Linked DNA regions of Homo sapiens. The protein of the gene in region 1 interacts with the protein of each later gene in a pairwise test. Each region holds a gene or a part of one and is shown on either strand. Other genes may lie near its edges.

Region 1 (7,887 bases):
AGATGTGTGCACCCACACACATATACATACACACACACACACACACACACACACACACACACACAGCCCTTTGAACCCAGCACTGGCCTGAGGAAGGTGGCCCCGGAGGAACCCTGAAGGCACATGTCCACCAGGCTATAATGCCCCTGCCACCCTGGGGCTCAGCTGGCCAGACTCCCAGGGGTGGGATGCTGCTGACCCAGGAGCCCACCAAGTCCCCAGGGCAGTACTGGGCAGGGCCCAGAAAACCCCACGCCCAGCCCACCAGCCTGCCACTCCTGGCCTCAGATGCCACTCCCGGCCTCAGATGCCACTCCCAGCCTCAGACGCAGATGGGCCCGAGAGGTGTTCCTGGGAAACAGTTCACTTAGCAAGACCCAGTACCTGCGCTCCAGAAGCTCAGCGCAGGCCCAGCCTGGGGTTGGCCCCAGATGGAATATCTTCCACACCCGCCCGCTTCTGCCAAACCCCACCTGGGCTAAGCCAGGCCCGACCAGGCACCTGCCCGATGGCTGAGAGCCAGCCTCACGGTCAGAGAGGCCAGCGGGCTGAGGCCACAGGGCAGAGGGAATATGGGGGTGCACATCCTGGGCACCAGCTCTCTGCATCCTCCCTGGGTAGGCCTGGCTCCGGACAGCCTGGCACCCAGGGCAGTGGGGACAGCTCTGTGTGGGGAGGTGACTGTGGCCTCTGCCCAGTTCTTAAAAGGCAGAAGCTCCCTGAGGGCAGGGCTTGGGCAGGCCAGCAGGAGCACCTGAGTGGGGCTGAGGTCAGACCCACTAACCCACTAATGGGGCTGGGCTGTGGCTGATGTTGACGGGGCCACACCAGGGAGAGGGTGGGCACCCTCGGTGCCAGGGAGAGCCTGCTCTCCCCACTTCCTTAGCACCAAGGCCAGCAGGGGCGGGGGGTGATGGGCAGAACCTAGGGGCCCCAGCAGGCCCAGGGAGGAGGGGCAGCCGAGGGGCCTTGAGGTGGCCTGTCCAAGGTTCCCAGGGCCAGCAGGGAGCATCCCCCACCCAGCTGTCCAGTCACTGCCAAGGCTGCAGTTCCAGGTACCGGGGTGCACCTTAGGAGCCCTGTGGGCTTCTTCAGAAGGCAGGGTGACAGTGGGCGCTGCACCCTAGGCAGCAGTGGGAGGTTGCTGGCAGCGGCAGGCTGTCCCAGGCCCTGGGGCTCCACCTGCTAAGAGAGCTGGGGGAGGTCCCTCTGCTCAGTGCCCAGGTGGCAGGGTCCCACTTGCCCCTCCCCTCAAGCCAGGACCAGCATCTCCAGGGGAAGCTGCTCCCAGGTCACAGCAGGTCACAGGCAGCCCTGTCTGTGGTGTGAGATCTGCAGACCCACCCAGCAGAGGAGTAGGGCTGGGTAGTGTCCACACAGCTGCTGCAGGCTCTGCCTCAAGTCCAGCAGCCCAGACCCTCACACCAGCAGCCAGTGGCTCCTGGCTTAAGCCAGTCTGGAGAAAGGAGCAGAGGACTCCAGGTGTAGGGACACGTGCAAAGGCCCCTCTCCAGGCTGTGCCTCAGCGTGGACAGTCCAGGCCTCACTTGGACCCACACAGAGCCAGAAGAGGGGACAGGGAGGGAGGGGCGCCCAGCCCTTCACAGCTCCCCCTCCAGGGTCTCCGCGAGCTTCTCCTCATCCGCCTGCTGCCTCTGCTGCTGGATCCTGGCATAGGAGATCGCATCGCCCCTGGGGAGAGAGAGAGGCAGCGTCACGTGGAGCACCAGCCCCATGCCCACAGCCCTCCTGACCACTGCCCGGTTCCTGCCCTGTGACCCAGGTGTGACCTGCAGGCATTCTGATTTCCCCAGAGACAACTGCTGGGGTGGCAAAGGCCTGTCTTGTCCCCTCTGAGAATGGCCCAGGCTCCCTGGGATGCTGGGCTGCGAAGGAACCAGCCTCAGTCTGGGCTCTGCAGGAGAGAGGGTGGCAACTGAGTACAATGCCCGGTGCAGACCTGGGAGGGGAAGGGGCTCCCACCAGCCATGTTTTTGCTATCCTTGCTGCAGGCCGTGACGGGGCAAGACTGGGCCACGCAGAAGTGTTGTAAGTCCTCTGTCTTCACCCACTCGAGCTGAGCCCTGGAGGCACCAATGAGTTACTGGGACCTCTGCCTCGGTCTCCACTAGCTAAAAGGGGCCACTCTCAGATCCTCCTCACTGAAGGACTTCGGGGGGCGGAGGGAGGAAGGCCCTGCCCAGGGGCTGGGCCTGGCAGACGCACTTTTTGCCCAGAGCAGAGAGTCCGTACAGCACCCCCGTAGCAAAGGCGATGGCGTTGCCCAGCAGCGTGGTCAGGGTCAGGCTGATGACGATGGGAACGACCGCCATCCTGGGGGGAAAGCAGAGGTCAAGGGGGCACTCCGGCCCCACAGCCACCACATCCTTCCCCGCTTCCCAGACTCGGCCCAGCATCCTTCCTAGACACCCAGGGCACAGGAAGGATCCCCAAAAATCAACTGAGACACAGCTTCAGAAAGTCCTTCATCAGCCCTGAACTTGTCTGTAAAACTGTTCCATTCTGGGAATAGGATCCAAAGCTTTCATCAGATTTTTGAAGGGGTCTGTGATCCCAAAAAGAGCTAAACAGTAACGAGATGGTCCAGTGCCCTCACTGTGAGAAAAACTGGCCAGAAAGAGCCTGTGACAGAGAATCTGGCTTCCCATCCAGGACCTACTAGCTTCGCGGGCAAGTTACTCGGAATCTCCACCGCGGAGAGGGGATCAAAGCTTGTCCGAGGTCAGTCATGTTACCTACACAATGCTGACCACCACAGGCACTAAATAAATGCTCTGAGTTATAGAGTAACACCAGCCACATCGCCACAAGTAAGGTCCCTGGAATTCAACCACATGGAACACAGGGTCTCATCATGGGAGGGCTGCAGGCTGCGGGGTCTGCGGGGTCGGCCCAGACCTTGCTGCAGTTTGGCGTCACCTGGTGGCAGGGTCCACTGGGGCTTAAGCGTCCCCGGGGCTGATTCTCCATCCTGGCTGGAATTTCCAGGCCAGCAGCAATTCCTGGGCTAACTGGGCCAGGAGGATACCTGCAGCCTGGAGGCCAGCGCTCTGTCCTGTCGCCTCCCTAGAGGAGGCTGCCTGTGCAGGAGGACAAGACTCGTGGCCAATTGCATTCTACCTCAGTTTCCATTCTTGTAGACATGTGGTTGTGAGATTTTTCTGTCGTTAAAAAATTTCAAAATGATAAAATAATAATAGAAATTACAAAGAAAAAGACCACGGCGGGGAACCTTCTGACAAAAACAAAATTAAAGGCAAACAAGAGCCTGGAAAAATAGTTGCAGGAAATACAACCAAGGATCATGAAATCTTTAATACAGAAAACACACTGAACTTGCTAAGCAGAACACTGAGGTTCCCACAGGTTAAAAAGTAAACTCGAAAATTTTCATATCAGAAAATGCAATGGAAACACGTGGGAAAATATTTTTCCCTCTTAGATAACAAATAGATAAATGCGAATGTGAAGTGGTGTGCAGCCCTGGGCTGGGGTGGGGGCGGGGGAGAGACTCAAGGGACCTCTTTGGAAAGCAACGTAGCCACGCATCTTAAAATATTTTTAATGATCAGAATCTTTGACCCAGTAATTCCACACCTGAAAATAGATATTAAGGAAATCATCATAAACACAGAAAAAGTTTTAGCAGACACATGTTTATCACACCTCGATTTACACCAGTTAAGAAATTAAGAACAGCATGATACATCCAGCTGAATGAATATTCCTGTATTGAAAGAATGTTATAAAGTCTGTGGTGATGTTCAAATGCTTATATCATTACTCTAAGTGAAAAAAGGCAGGATACAAACTTATTCATAATGGTTATAACTGTGTTAAAAGCAGGCTTTTAAAAAATGCCTGCAGACAGGAAGCACACACATCAGAAGATTAGCAGGCAGCGGGCTTCGAGTAACATTGTTCTATATTCCAAATTATTGTGAATGAATTTCTATGATGTCTAGCATTTTTAAAATACAGTTTTTTGAACCCCTAAGGACATGACACTGCGTGTAGATAAGAGCTTTGTGATCCTGTGTTCTTCGTGATTTAGATATGGCACAAGATGGCTCCAGAACTAAGCATGTGGCTTGTGCTCTTACCATCAAAACTACCGGGCCTCTCTGAAGGGGAAGCAAGCTTGCATCTAGACTTCTTTCTAAAGATAACCTAGACAATAATGAATACAGCTGCCACCAGCCTCCTATGCACTAGAGGCATTATTCTAGGAGTTTCCGTGTATTAAGCTTATCCTGAAATTAGTTCCTTCTTATGACTGAGAGGAGAAGTATTACATATTGATTTCATTGTTAGAAATGGGAAAATTTTTAACAAGTGTATTTAGAGGGCAACCACATTTTCTGCTCTGCAACCTGCTTCTCCCCCTTCACGTCAGGACATCTAGATGAACCCACTCTTCGGAAAGGCTGCAGAGAAACATGTCCTACAGACCTACTATCATCTGGTTAACAACTCCCAGTGGACGGACCAAAATTCCAGACGCTTCCCACTTTCTCTCCACTGCACGGATGCTGCCACACATGCTCATATACCTCTGAACCTTCCAGTGACTACGGCACAGCGACAGCTGAGTTCCTGGGCGCAGAACCACTGGGGCACGTTTTGGCAGCTATGAGCAAATCACTGTGCACAAAGGCAATCCCAGTTTACACTTCCACAGAGAGGAACTGAATACACTGCCCACCCTCACCTGACTTTTGGGTCCTATTTTGTCAGTGGGGTTTTGGGGAACTGTGTCACGGGACCCTGCCCAGCAACCCCTCACCCGCAGTAGAAGACAGCCTTCTGCCAGGAGCGCAGCCGGTCCACCTTCTCCGCCACTGTGTTTGCAAACTCGATGAACTGGCAGCAGAAGGGCGCCTCACACAGCAACAAGATGAAGGCATTCATGCTGCAGGGACCAGGGCAGGAGAAGAGCAGCGACTGACAATCCCAGGAGGATGAGGGCGGCCCCCAGTGCCAGTGCCATAAGGAATGCCACCTCCCTCACCCTCCTGCCCTCATCCCTCCTCCTCTGGGAAGCCGCCCGGCTGCTCCAGGGCACCTGCTCGTACCCCTCGGAGAGCCTCTGCTGAAGACTCCAGCACTCCCCAGCTGCTCCTGCACACCCATCTCCCCAGCTGAACTGAACACTCCTAGAGGGAAGCCCCTGGGCTTCTGCTTCCCTTTATCCTCCTCCTGTGTGACATGGAGGAAAGGGGACCCCACATCATGGCACTGCTACAACGCTGCGGCAGGTTCATCCACAGATGGAGCACTGGCAGCTGTGTCCTCTGTCTGCTGTTAGTATTATCGCCATGGCCACCAAAAGCCGTCAGTGGCACCAGCACCAGGAAGGCTGCCCCACCAGGGAGGCAGAGAGCTGGAGCCACGCAGTCCCAAAACAGTCACGGAGAGCTGCCCACACACCTGATGCCACCGGCCCCAGGCCCGGGGACACCCAGGGGAAGCCCACGCTGGGGAGGAAGAACTTTAGCAAGTCCTTGCATCCAGCCCTATGTTTGGGGTGGGAACAGCTAAGCCACTGGTGACGGAAGGTGTCTGCTGTGGTCTTGGTATTCTCTATGCATGGATAACAATCAGTTAGCAGACACTGAGCCAGGCCCTTCTGTCCCCAGGCCTGGGAGAAAAGTGCCATCATTATGCCTGTGTAACAGAAATGCAGGCTCAGGACACCTAAGAGCCACCCCAAGCCCGGGGCAGGCACTCTCTTCACAACTCTTAACCACTGCACCCGCCCCGAGCCTCCCACACACCAGGCCTCCAAGCACGGGCTCACTCTGTGCTGGGCCAGCCCTTCCACTTCAAACTCGGCCAGGCTCCGACTCCACCCCCTGAAGCTGGGCTGGGCGCCTCTCTGTCCATCCCCCTTCCCTATCCACCACTGGCCAGCACAAGCACTGAGGACCCCACCACAGCAGGCCCCCGAGGCTCTCCACTGGCCATAGGTCACTGGGGACGGGACCTGAATCTCGTCTAGCTCTGTACCCCTCAAGGCACCAAGCCCCATGAGGACACTCATCAATTCCTGGTGCACCGCCACTTCTCACGTGCCCCAAGCCACACGGGCCTGCCCTCACCCCGCCTTCCCTTCCGATGGGATGGCGAAACCCTGGCAGGAGGTGGGCATGGAACGCACATGAGGGTGTTCTGACCACGGGTTCCCGTGACAACTCCGACCCGCCTCTCCCATCTATCTTTGGCACAGCTCCGAGCTCGAGTGCCCTCTCCCAGCAGACCATTCAACCCAGTCCTCAGCCAGCCCCAATGAACAGCCTTCCCCACCCCAGTCCTGGGAGCTCCCAGAGGGCGAGGGCCCCAGTATAGTGGACTTGGCATCTGCAGTCTCAGTGGATGCTCCAGAAATGTCTGGAGCACTGATGGCCTTGCCCCTGCACCGGATGAAGGCCGGGGTGGGCATTCCCTGGGCCTTGACCTCTCATTAGGAAACTAAACATGGTGGGGGTATGAAGGGGAAGAAGCCGCATGCTGTGGCCAGAAACTCACATGCCCGAGGCACCCAGGCTGGAGCCAGTAGCCATGGCAACCACAAGGATGCCCACTCCCACGGCCCCTGCCACTCCTCTGTCCCGGGAGGTGCCCAGCAGATTCCCGACCAGCAAGACCCCCGGGGTGGGACGGCCATGCATTACTCACATCATCCACACGCCGGCCGCAATGTTCAGAGGGTGGATGGTGATGCAGTTGAAGAGGCCAGAGATCGCGCAAGCTTGAAACAAGAGACACGGGCAGGAGTCAGCAGGGAGGCAGGCGGAGCCCGCTGGGAAGGCGGCCTTGGGAGATGACTGGAAAGGACGAGAGTCTCTGCGGATGCTCAGCACACAGTTCTCACAGCACCCAGAAGCCTGCCCTCTATCGTCTGAGACAGGTGAGGAGACGCAGAGAGGTGCAGTGCCTTGCTTGCCCCAGGCCCCACAGCAAGGTGGCAGCAAGGTGGCAGGTGGATCTCACAGCATCCTCTCCCCGTTTCAGGGCTCAGAGGAGCTGGCCCTCTGACCCCAGCTACATCAATATCCACCTCAAAGGGAGGTTAGGATTAAAGAAGGATTAAAGAGTGAATGTCCCTCAAGGATTCAGGCCAGTGCTCCCCCAAGACTCAGCCTTCGGTAAGGGTCACTTGCCACCATTCACAGGGCCGGCCACACAAGAAGTCCTCTGACTCAGAAAATGTGGCTTGGATTTTGGTTGGGACAAGGGGTGCCTCTCTCAGAACAGAGATGGGAACCAGGTAAGACTGAGCAGCAGTTCCAGCTCTAACTTCCTCACCAGCCCTGTGCCACTGGCACGCTATCTTCATCTTCCTAGACCCGTTTCTCCTCTTGCACATGAGCAAGTCCCACAGCCCAGCCACCCACCGCTGAAATGCCATAAGGCCAGGAAGGGGAGGGGGCATCGTTTTCCACCCCAGAACGTGGCTTCTCTGATGCTCAGATGTGCAGCCTTGACGCCCCGCCTCCCAGCTGCACCTCACCAGCAGGGTCTCTTGCACCCAACTCCCTCCTCCACCCACAGCCTGCAGCCTGGCTTCACCAGGAACTCCAGGAGCCTTCAAGGCAGGTCCAAGGAGGTGGCTGCTGGGCAGGGAGCAAGCCCAGGCCATCACTGAGGGGGGCCTTGGAGGCAGCAATTAGCACCCAGCTCATTAAACTTGCAGCAGCTCCTCTGCACCTGATCCCTCCACCTGGGTCTGGAATTCTGCTGTTTTCCATTTTCCCAGGTAACCTTATGCAGACAGCAGGCAAAGAAGCCAGATAAAGTGAGCCGAACTGCAATGGGACTGCTTCATGGGCCCCCAGGGTCTCCTTCTAAAACAAAGGACTCAAG
Region 2 (7,887 bases), on another chromosome or scaffold:
CCCCAGAGTATCTCAAGGGACTTGCAGGAACTGCAGAAGAAGCTGTCTCTGCTGATAGACTCCTTCCAGAATAACTCAAAGGTCAGTTTCCAATCACTATGTATAATGGAAAATCCCAATATAACACTAGCATAAACAAGATAGAAAGTTATTTCTTTCTCCAGTAGAAGGAATTTGGAGGTAAGTCAAGAATCTTTCTGGCTTACCGCCCTGCCATGTCTATGCTGTGACCTTCAAACTCCTTGTCTGAGATGACTGCAAGAGCATCAGCCATTGTATCCATCTTTCAGGCAACAGGATTTGAGGAGGGGGGAAGAGAGAAGTGCAAGCCACCTACAATTTAAGGAGACTTCTGGGAGTCGCACACAATACTTCCAATTACATCCCTTAAGCCAACATTGAGTCATTTGCCACTAATGGCAAATGCAATTCTTTAGCTGGATAAAGAAGTCTGTGCAACAGATATCATCCTTTTTTTGGTTTTGTTTGGTTTTGTTGTGAATTTTGCCCTATCTGTTACCCTGAAAATGAGAGACAAAAGCCTACTTCAAGATTTGAGTTCATTGTTCCACTAGGAATCCAGGTCCGATAGAAATATGATGTGAGTCACGTATGTAATTTAGAATTTTTCTAGTAGCCACATGTAAGAAGTAAAAAGAAATAGGTAAAATTAATTTTGGCTGGGCATAGTGGCTCCCGCCTGTGATCCTAGCACTTTGGGAGGCTGAGGTGGGTGGATCACTTGAGATCAGAAGTTCGAGATCAGCCTGGCGAACATGGTAAAACCCCATCTCTACTAAAATTACCAAAATGAGCAGGTGTGGTGGTAAGGCCTGTAGTCCCAGCTACTCGGGAGGCTGAGGCAGGAGAATCACTTGAACCCAGGAGGCGGAGGTTGCAGTGAGCTGAGATTGTGCCACCGCACTCCAGCCTGGGCGACAGAGCGAGATTCCGTCTCCAAAAAAAAAAAATTATTTTTAATAATGTTTTTATTCAACCTAAGATATCAAAAATATTTCAACATGTAATCATTTATACAAAATTATTAATGAAAAAAGATTCTTGAAACATTGTACCTTCTTTTTTGAACTCCCTCTTCAAAACCCCCCGTGCGCATATTTTACACTTCTAGCACATTTCAATTCGAGTTAGCCACTTTTTAGGTATTCAGTGGCCACTCAGTGGCAATGAGACTTCAGATAGCGTTATGTTTTCTTGCATATTTATCCTTATTGCTTTCTTCTATATGTCTTTCAGCATTTTGTCAGGGAAAAGAAAACAGCTTTCAGAGATAATACTGTTAACATTTTGTATGTCATTCTAGACCTTTTTTCTATGCAATATACCTATAAAAATACATATGTATATGTAACAAAATGAACTATTTTGTGGTGTATTTTTTTTTGTATTGGATAGCACAGCGGGTCTACTCGAAGAGATGCTTGTTTGCAATCTACAACAATAAATTCTGGACTTGCTCCAGAATTTATTTGGCACTCTTTGTGGATTTACCAAGCTATTTTTAAATTGGACAAGCAGCTTTCTCGCCAGCTGGCGGGGACTCTTGTTATTAAAAGTTAGCTCAGTAAGAAGGGTCCTCCTGCCTGTTCCACATTTACAGCTGATTCTCATTAACCATGGTAGTTACGTTCTATAAAGTTACTGCAGACACTGAATTAGCACATACCAAACCATCGCTCCTAGGGGAAATACAGGATTCAGTTGCTGTGAGCCTCCTGTTCACAACATTTTTGTCAGCTGATCAGTACATAACCTCGTTTTATGTGTATTTCTGTTTAAAGACATGTTAATATATATTGTTGATCATTAACGTTGAACTCAGGGCCAACAACAGTACTATGACTCATGTCTTAAACAAAGCTAATCACACACATGTATTTTCTGCATAAGGCACATCACAGCCTTCTCATGGTTAGGAACGCTAGAGAACACTTCAGCACTACACTTGGGGACCATTTTCAACAGTAAAATCACCAAACTAAAGCATAAACGTGGCACTAAATAGACCACAGTGACACTTGTTTAAAGGATGAAACAGGAAGGCTCGGTGTCACCTTGCTTGACCTCAGCTGGGAATGTACGTGGCAGGTGACTCCACTTTTTGCTGTTGTGGACGTGTCCACTAATGACCTCAAAAGCACTGCAGGCCAGGCGTGGTAGCTCACACCTGTAATCCTAGTACTTTGGGAGGCCGAGGCGGGTGGATCCCTTGAGCCAGAAGTTCAAGACCAGCCTGGCCAACATGATGAAACCCCTTCTCTACGAAAAATACAAAAATTAGCTGGGTGTGGTGGTGTGCGCCTGTAATCCTAGCCTCTTGGGAGGCTGAGGCACGAGAATCGCTTGAACCCAGGAGGTGAAGGTTGAAGGGAGCCAAGATCACACCACTGTACTCCAGCCTGGGTGACAGAGCAAGACTCTATCTCAGACAAAACAAAACAAAACAAAAAGCACTGCCAGTATTCATTTTGAGGTTACAAATAAATTTCAGTGAGGAGGCAAATTTACAAATATGGAATCATGAGTAATAAGGATTGACTGCATATTTCTTGGCACTGACTGTATGCCAAGCACTGCACTAGGCATTCACCCTGGCCCTGTCTGAACTTAGTTAATAGTCACGTTCACCTGCCTTTTTTGTTTGTTTGTTTTTGTATTTTTAGTAGAGACGGGGTTTCTCACCATTTTGGCCACGCTGATCTCCAACTCCTGACCTCAGGCAATCCACCCACTTCGGCCTCCCAAAGTGCTGGGATTATAGGCGTGAGCCACCGCACCTGGCCACCAGTGGTTGTAAATGGTCCTGACCCTTCGTCTTTCTCCTGTTAGGAAGAGATAATGAATCATTGATTGTTTTTTGCATTCTGATACCAGGGAATTTGCCTGGCTCCTGAATCATCCAAGTTTCAGTCTTCATGTTCTCAAATACTGGCCACTTTGTCCCTAGTTTAGAAGCCAACCGCCTTTGTCTGACCTTGGGCAAGTCACTTAGGCTCACTGAATTTCCATCTCCTTTTTTAAAATTTTTTATTTATTTTTTATTGAGACAGAGTCTCACTCTGTCTTCCAGGCTGGAGTATAGTGGTGTGATCATGGCTTACTGTAGCCTCGAACTTCTGGTCTCAAGCAACACCTCCAGCCTCAGCCTCCTGAGTAGCTGGGACTACAGGTGCACACCAGCATACTCAGCTAATGTTTTATTTTATTTTTTGGAGAGACAGCATCTTTCACTGTGTTGCCCAGGCTGGTCTCAAACTCTTGGCCTCAAGCAGTCCTCCTGCCTTGGCCTCCTGAAGTGCTGGGATTACAGAAGTGAGCCACCATGCCCAGCTGCCATCTCCTCTTTTCTAAAATGAGCAATGTCAGGCTCAGAGGTTTGTTATGAAGATTATCTGAGATGCTGTTTGAAGCTTTAGCACAGAGGGTGGCGCATAATGTTGTCAGTCTGTCTCAGCCTGGCCTTCCTGGGCTCTGCAGTGCTGCACTGTGCTTACAGAGCCTAGATTGGGTAACCTGTGTCTACCTCCAGGCTGGTGATGGAAAATCACAGTGCATGTTACTGAATAATAACCTCTCCCACTTTCCATCTTTCCATTGCATCCCCCTCTGTTGCCATGAGAATGAAATGTTAATTGCTACGTTCTACCCCCCTGAGTTTAAATAGTGTTAGGTCGTTCTTTTTTACCTACCTCGTAGCATTGTAGGAAGAAATAAATGAGGAAATAATACGAGAGGTGCTTAAAGCAGTGCCCAGCACCTGAGTGTTTAATGAATGTTCTCTGTTATTATTAGGTGTGGTTGAATCGTGTCCTCCCCTCCTGGGACAGACTGGCTGGAGCTCAGCTGTACTTCCTGGGAGAAGACAATTTCTGGGTTTAATCATCTGAATCTTGGTCTCTTTGCATATCTAAATGACTTTCTCTTTGATTATAGAGCCCAGACTCGGAAAAGACTAAGAATGGCGGGGCATGGTGGCTGATGCTTATAATCCTAGCACTTCGGGAGGCCGAGGCGGGCAGATCACTTGAGGTCAGGAGTTCGAGACTAGCCTGGCCAACATGGTGAAACCCCATCTCTACTAAAAAATATAAATATTAGCTGGAAATCGCCTGAACCTGGGAAGCGGAAGTTGCAGTGAGCCGAGATCATGCCATTGCACTCTAGCCTGGGCAATAGAGTGAGATTCCATCTCAAAAAAACAAAAGGCTAAGAAAAAGGTGGATTCCTTAAGGACTGAAGTGGAACAGTCTTGCCTGTTTCCTTTTATATCCCTGTGCCATACAGTCCCTAAGTCCTGTGTATTCCTTCTTTTGTCATTCCACTTTCATACCCATCTACCCCTCCCCCTTCTCTTCCCTCTCTGCCATCAGCCTGGACTTGACCACAGTATATCTTGCCTGATTTCCTGCAAATCTTTCTACCTGCCTCTTGCACATGATTGCTAGGTTCATATTTCTTAAATCATTCCTTTAATCATGTCATAGTTCTGCTCAAATGACAGCAGTTTGTTCCCTGTTTTTTTTTTCCCAGATGAAATTTAAATGAGTGCTGTCTAGCAGAAATATTATGTGAGCCACATATATAATTTTAAGTTTTTTAATAATTACATTAAAAACAAAAAGAAACAAATGAGATTAATTTTATTTATTTATTTATCTTGAGATGGAGTCTCGCTCTGTCGCCCAGGCTGGAGTACAGTGGCGTGATCTCGGCTCACTGCAACCTCTGACTCCCGGGTTCAAGTGATTCTCCCGCCTCAGCCTCCCAAGTAGCTAGGATTACAGGCACGCACCACTCTGCCTGACTAATTTTTTTGTATTTTTACTAGAGACGGGGTTTCACCATGTTGACCAGGCTGGTCTTAAGCTCCAGATCTTAAGTAATCTGCCCACCTCAGCCTCCCAAAGTGCTGGGATTACAGGTGTGAGCCACCGTGCCCAGCCAGAGATTAATTTTAATAATATATTCTCAATTTAACACAATATATCCAAAACACTATAATTTCAACAGGTAATATAAAAAAGTATTAATGAGATATTTTGCATTTTTTTTTCTTACACTTAAAGCACATCTCAATTCTGATGCCAAATTTTCATTGGAAATATTTAATCTCTATTCAGATTTTATAAAACTTACAATTCAGCGAAATAGATTCACATACCCAACCTATTGGAAACATACTTAAAATTTTTCCAACAACTGAATCAAGTCTCAGCTTTAAAATTTAAATTAAATTAAATTGGAAATCCAGGCCATCAGTCACAGGAGGAGCATTTCAAGTGCTGAATGGCGCAGGTGGCCTGTGATGGACAGCCCGGGGATAAGCTAGCAAGCCCAGTGTCCTGGTGTCCCAGCCTCACAAGTTCCTTCCGCTGCACAGCCCTTCCCTCGCTGGCGCAGCATACTCACGGGTGTACTGCTGCCTCCCTTTCCTGGAGAGCCCATCTGCTCTCCCCACTGTGGTTCTTTGGATTGTAAAGATCAGGTGACACAGGGAGCATCAAATAAGGATGCATGTGGATTCGAACTGGAAAGAAGTCAGGACCTGAGACAGCGCAAGGGACCAGCCCACATTCTGTGTGGTGACTCCCACGGCTCCTCCGCCTCTCTTTCTCTTTCAGCTGCCCCAACACAGCAGGATCTCACTGGACTCTGATGATGGAGTGTCCAGGCTGGGCAGTGCTGGCTCCAAGGTGATTCCTGCTACAGTCATCTCTGGCTAGAGAAGCGGAATAGCAAGCTCTTTGGTGGCTTTTGTCAGAATGGTGGGGTAGCAGGAGGCAGTGAGGTCAGCGGGCATTATGCCGTCCTGTGGCCTGGCAGGGAGTGAAATTGGCCATGCCTCGAGAGTAATCCTTAGGAGACCACGCTGAAGCCCAAGACCAATGGCTGTGGCTTCTTGGCATGGCCTCTTTTATTTAAGCAGGGTGCAGCTTGCACTTTAGTTCCTTCAGCATGAACCACAAACCCCTCCTGCCTTCCAACTCGCCCTGAAAATCCCACTGTTTAAACCACTTGGGTAAACTCTTCTTCCTAGGAGGCACATGTGTTTTGGGGACCTGAATTATGTCTTCTTTTCATCTGTTGGCCTGCAAGGCCGTAGGGATGAGGCTCAGGAAGGACCAGTTATGATGGAAGGAGGTTCTGGAATAATGGTTCCTTTCAAGTGAACAGGATCTAGAATACCAGTACTGAGGAGAGAGAAGGCGTGGAGCCTAAGGAGGAGAGGGGGAAACCCATCTTTGCGGATTTGCCTATGGCCAGCTCTGCGTTAAAGCAGTCTCCCTCCATTGAGTCAGATCGAAAATTCCTTTTTGCCCGGTGAAGGAAAATAAACTATTAACACAACATAAACTTGCATTAGTCACAGGCTGTGGCCAACTATGGTAACCAGGTTGATGACATAAAAGCATTTTTACTTGATGTGGTGGCAGCTGTTGCAAGCATTGGACATTCTGAGTCCAAGACCTTAGGTTTGTTTTTTTTTTTTTGAAAAGGAGACTTGCGGTGGGGCGCGGTATCCCACGCCTGTAATCTCAGCACTTTGGGAGGCCAAGGCGGGTGGATCGCCTGAGGTCAGGAATTCGAGACCAGCCTGGACAATATAGTGAAACCCTGTCTCTACTAAAAATACAAAACTTAGCTGGGCGTGGTGGGGGCGCCCGTAATCCCAGCTACTCGGGAGGCTGAGGCGGGAGAATGGCTTGAACCCGGGAGGCGGAGGTTGCAGTGAGCCGAGATCTTGCCATTGCACTCCAGCCTGGGCGACAAGAGCAAAACTCCATCTCAAAAAAAAAAAAAGAAAGAAAGAAAAGAAAAGGAGACTTGCTCTGTCATCCAGGCTGGAGTGCAATGGCGCCATCTTGGCTCACTGCAACCTCCGCCTTCCAGGCTCAAACGATTCTCGTGCCTCAGCCTCCCTAGTAGCTGGGACTACCAGCACGCGCCACCATGCCTGGCTGATTTTTGTATGTTTAAAAGAGACAGGGTTTCACCATGTTAGCCAGGCTGTTCTTGAACTCCTGACCTCAGGTGACCCGCCTGCCTCCACCTCCCAAAGTGCTGGGATTACAGGTATGAGCCACCATGCTGGCCAGGCCTTAGCTTTTAATGCTGAGATTTTGCCACTTGGAGGCTGTGCGACTCTAGACAAGTGATTAGCTTTTAATGCTGAGCTTAGCTTTTAATAGACAAGTGAATAGACAAGTGATTAGCTTTTAATGCTTACTAATAGACAAGTGATTAGCTTTTAATGCTTAATAATGCTTTTAATAATAATGCTTTTAATAATTATAATTATAATAAATAATATATAAATAATATAATACATATTATAATTATATACATATATAAATATAATATATTTATATAATATATAATAATGCTATATGAATATTGATAACTAATATTAGTATAATATATCTAATATAATTATACAATATTATAATTATGATTTTTATATTACATTACAATTATATTTTTATATATAATTATATATATATTTTTAATATTATATTATATTTTTATTTTATATATTATAATTATAAATATTTTTATATTTATATTTTTATAAATATAATTATATTTTTATATAAAATTAAATATAATTTAATTTTATATAATTATAAATATTTTTATATTTTATATTTATAATTATAATTTATATTATATATTTATATTTATATATTTATATTTATTTATATTTATATATTTAAATATTTATATTTATAGTATATATAATATAATATATTATATTATATATAATTATAAACATATATAATTATTATATTATAATTATAATTATAATGCTTTTAATAGTAATAATACTTTTAATAATAATAGACAAGTGATTAGCTTTTAATGCTA

The links.
Region 2: the proteins of CACFD1 (region 1) and LDAF1 interact in binary tests that used the Homo sapiens proteins (3 or more experiments, as listed by UniProt).

The regions. Positions count from the first base shown.
Region 1 is NC_000009.12:133,462,368-133,470,254, reverse strand, and holds part of CACFD1 (calcium channel flower homolog), read right to left. Parts: intron 6,773-7,887; coding exon 6,700-6,772; intron 4,934-6,699; coding exon 4,808-4,933; intron 4,019-4,807; exon of another isoform or gene 2,335-4,018; coding exon 2,227-2,334; exon of another isoform or gene 2,013-2,226; intron 1,916-2,012; coding exon of another isoform or gene 1,791-1,915; intron 1,784-1,790; exon of another isoform or gene 1,693-1,783; coding exon 1,602-1,692; coding exon of another isoform or gene 1,544-1,601; 3' UTR 1-1,543. UniProt on the Homo sapiens protein: Transmembrane protein which mediates synaptic endocytosis and fitness-based cell culling.
Region 2 is NC_000016.10:21,161,198-21,169,084, forward strand, and holds part of LDAF1 (lipid droplet assembly factor 1), read left to right. Parts: coding exon 1-81; intron 82-5,642; coding exon of another isoform or gene 5,643-5,714; intron 5,715-7,887. UniProt on the Homo sapiens protein: Plays an important role in the formation of lipid droplets (LD) which are storage organelles at the center of lipid and energy homeostasis. In association with BSCL2/seipin, defines the sites of LD formation in the endoplasmic reticulum.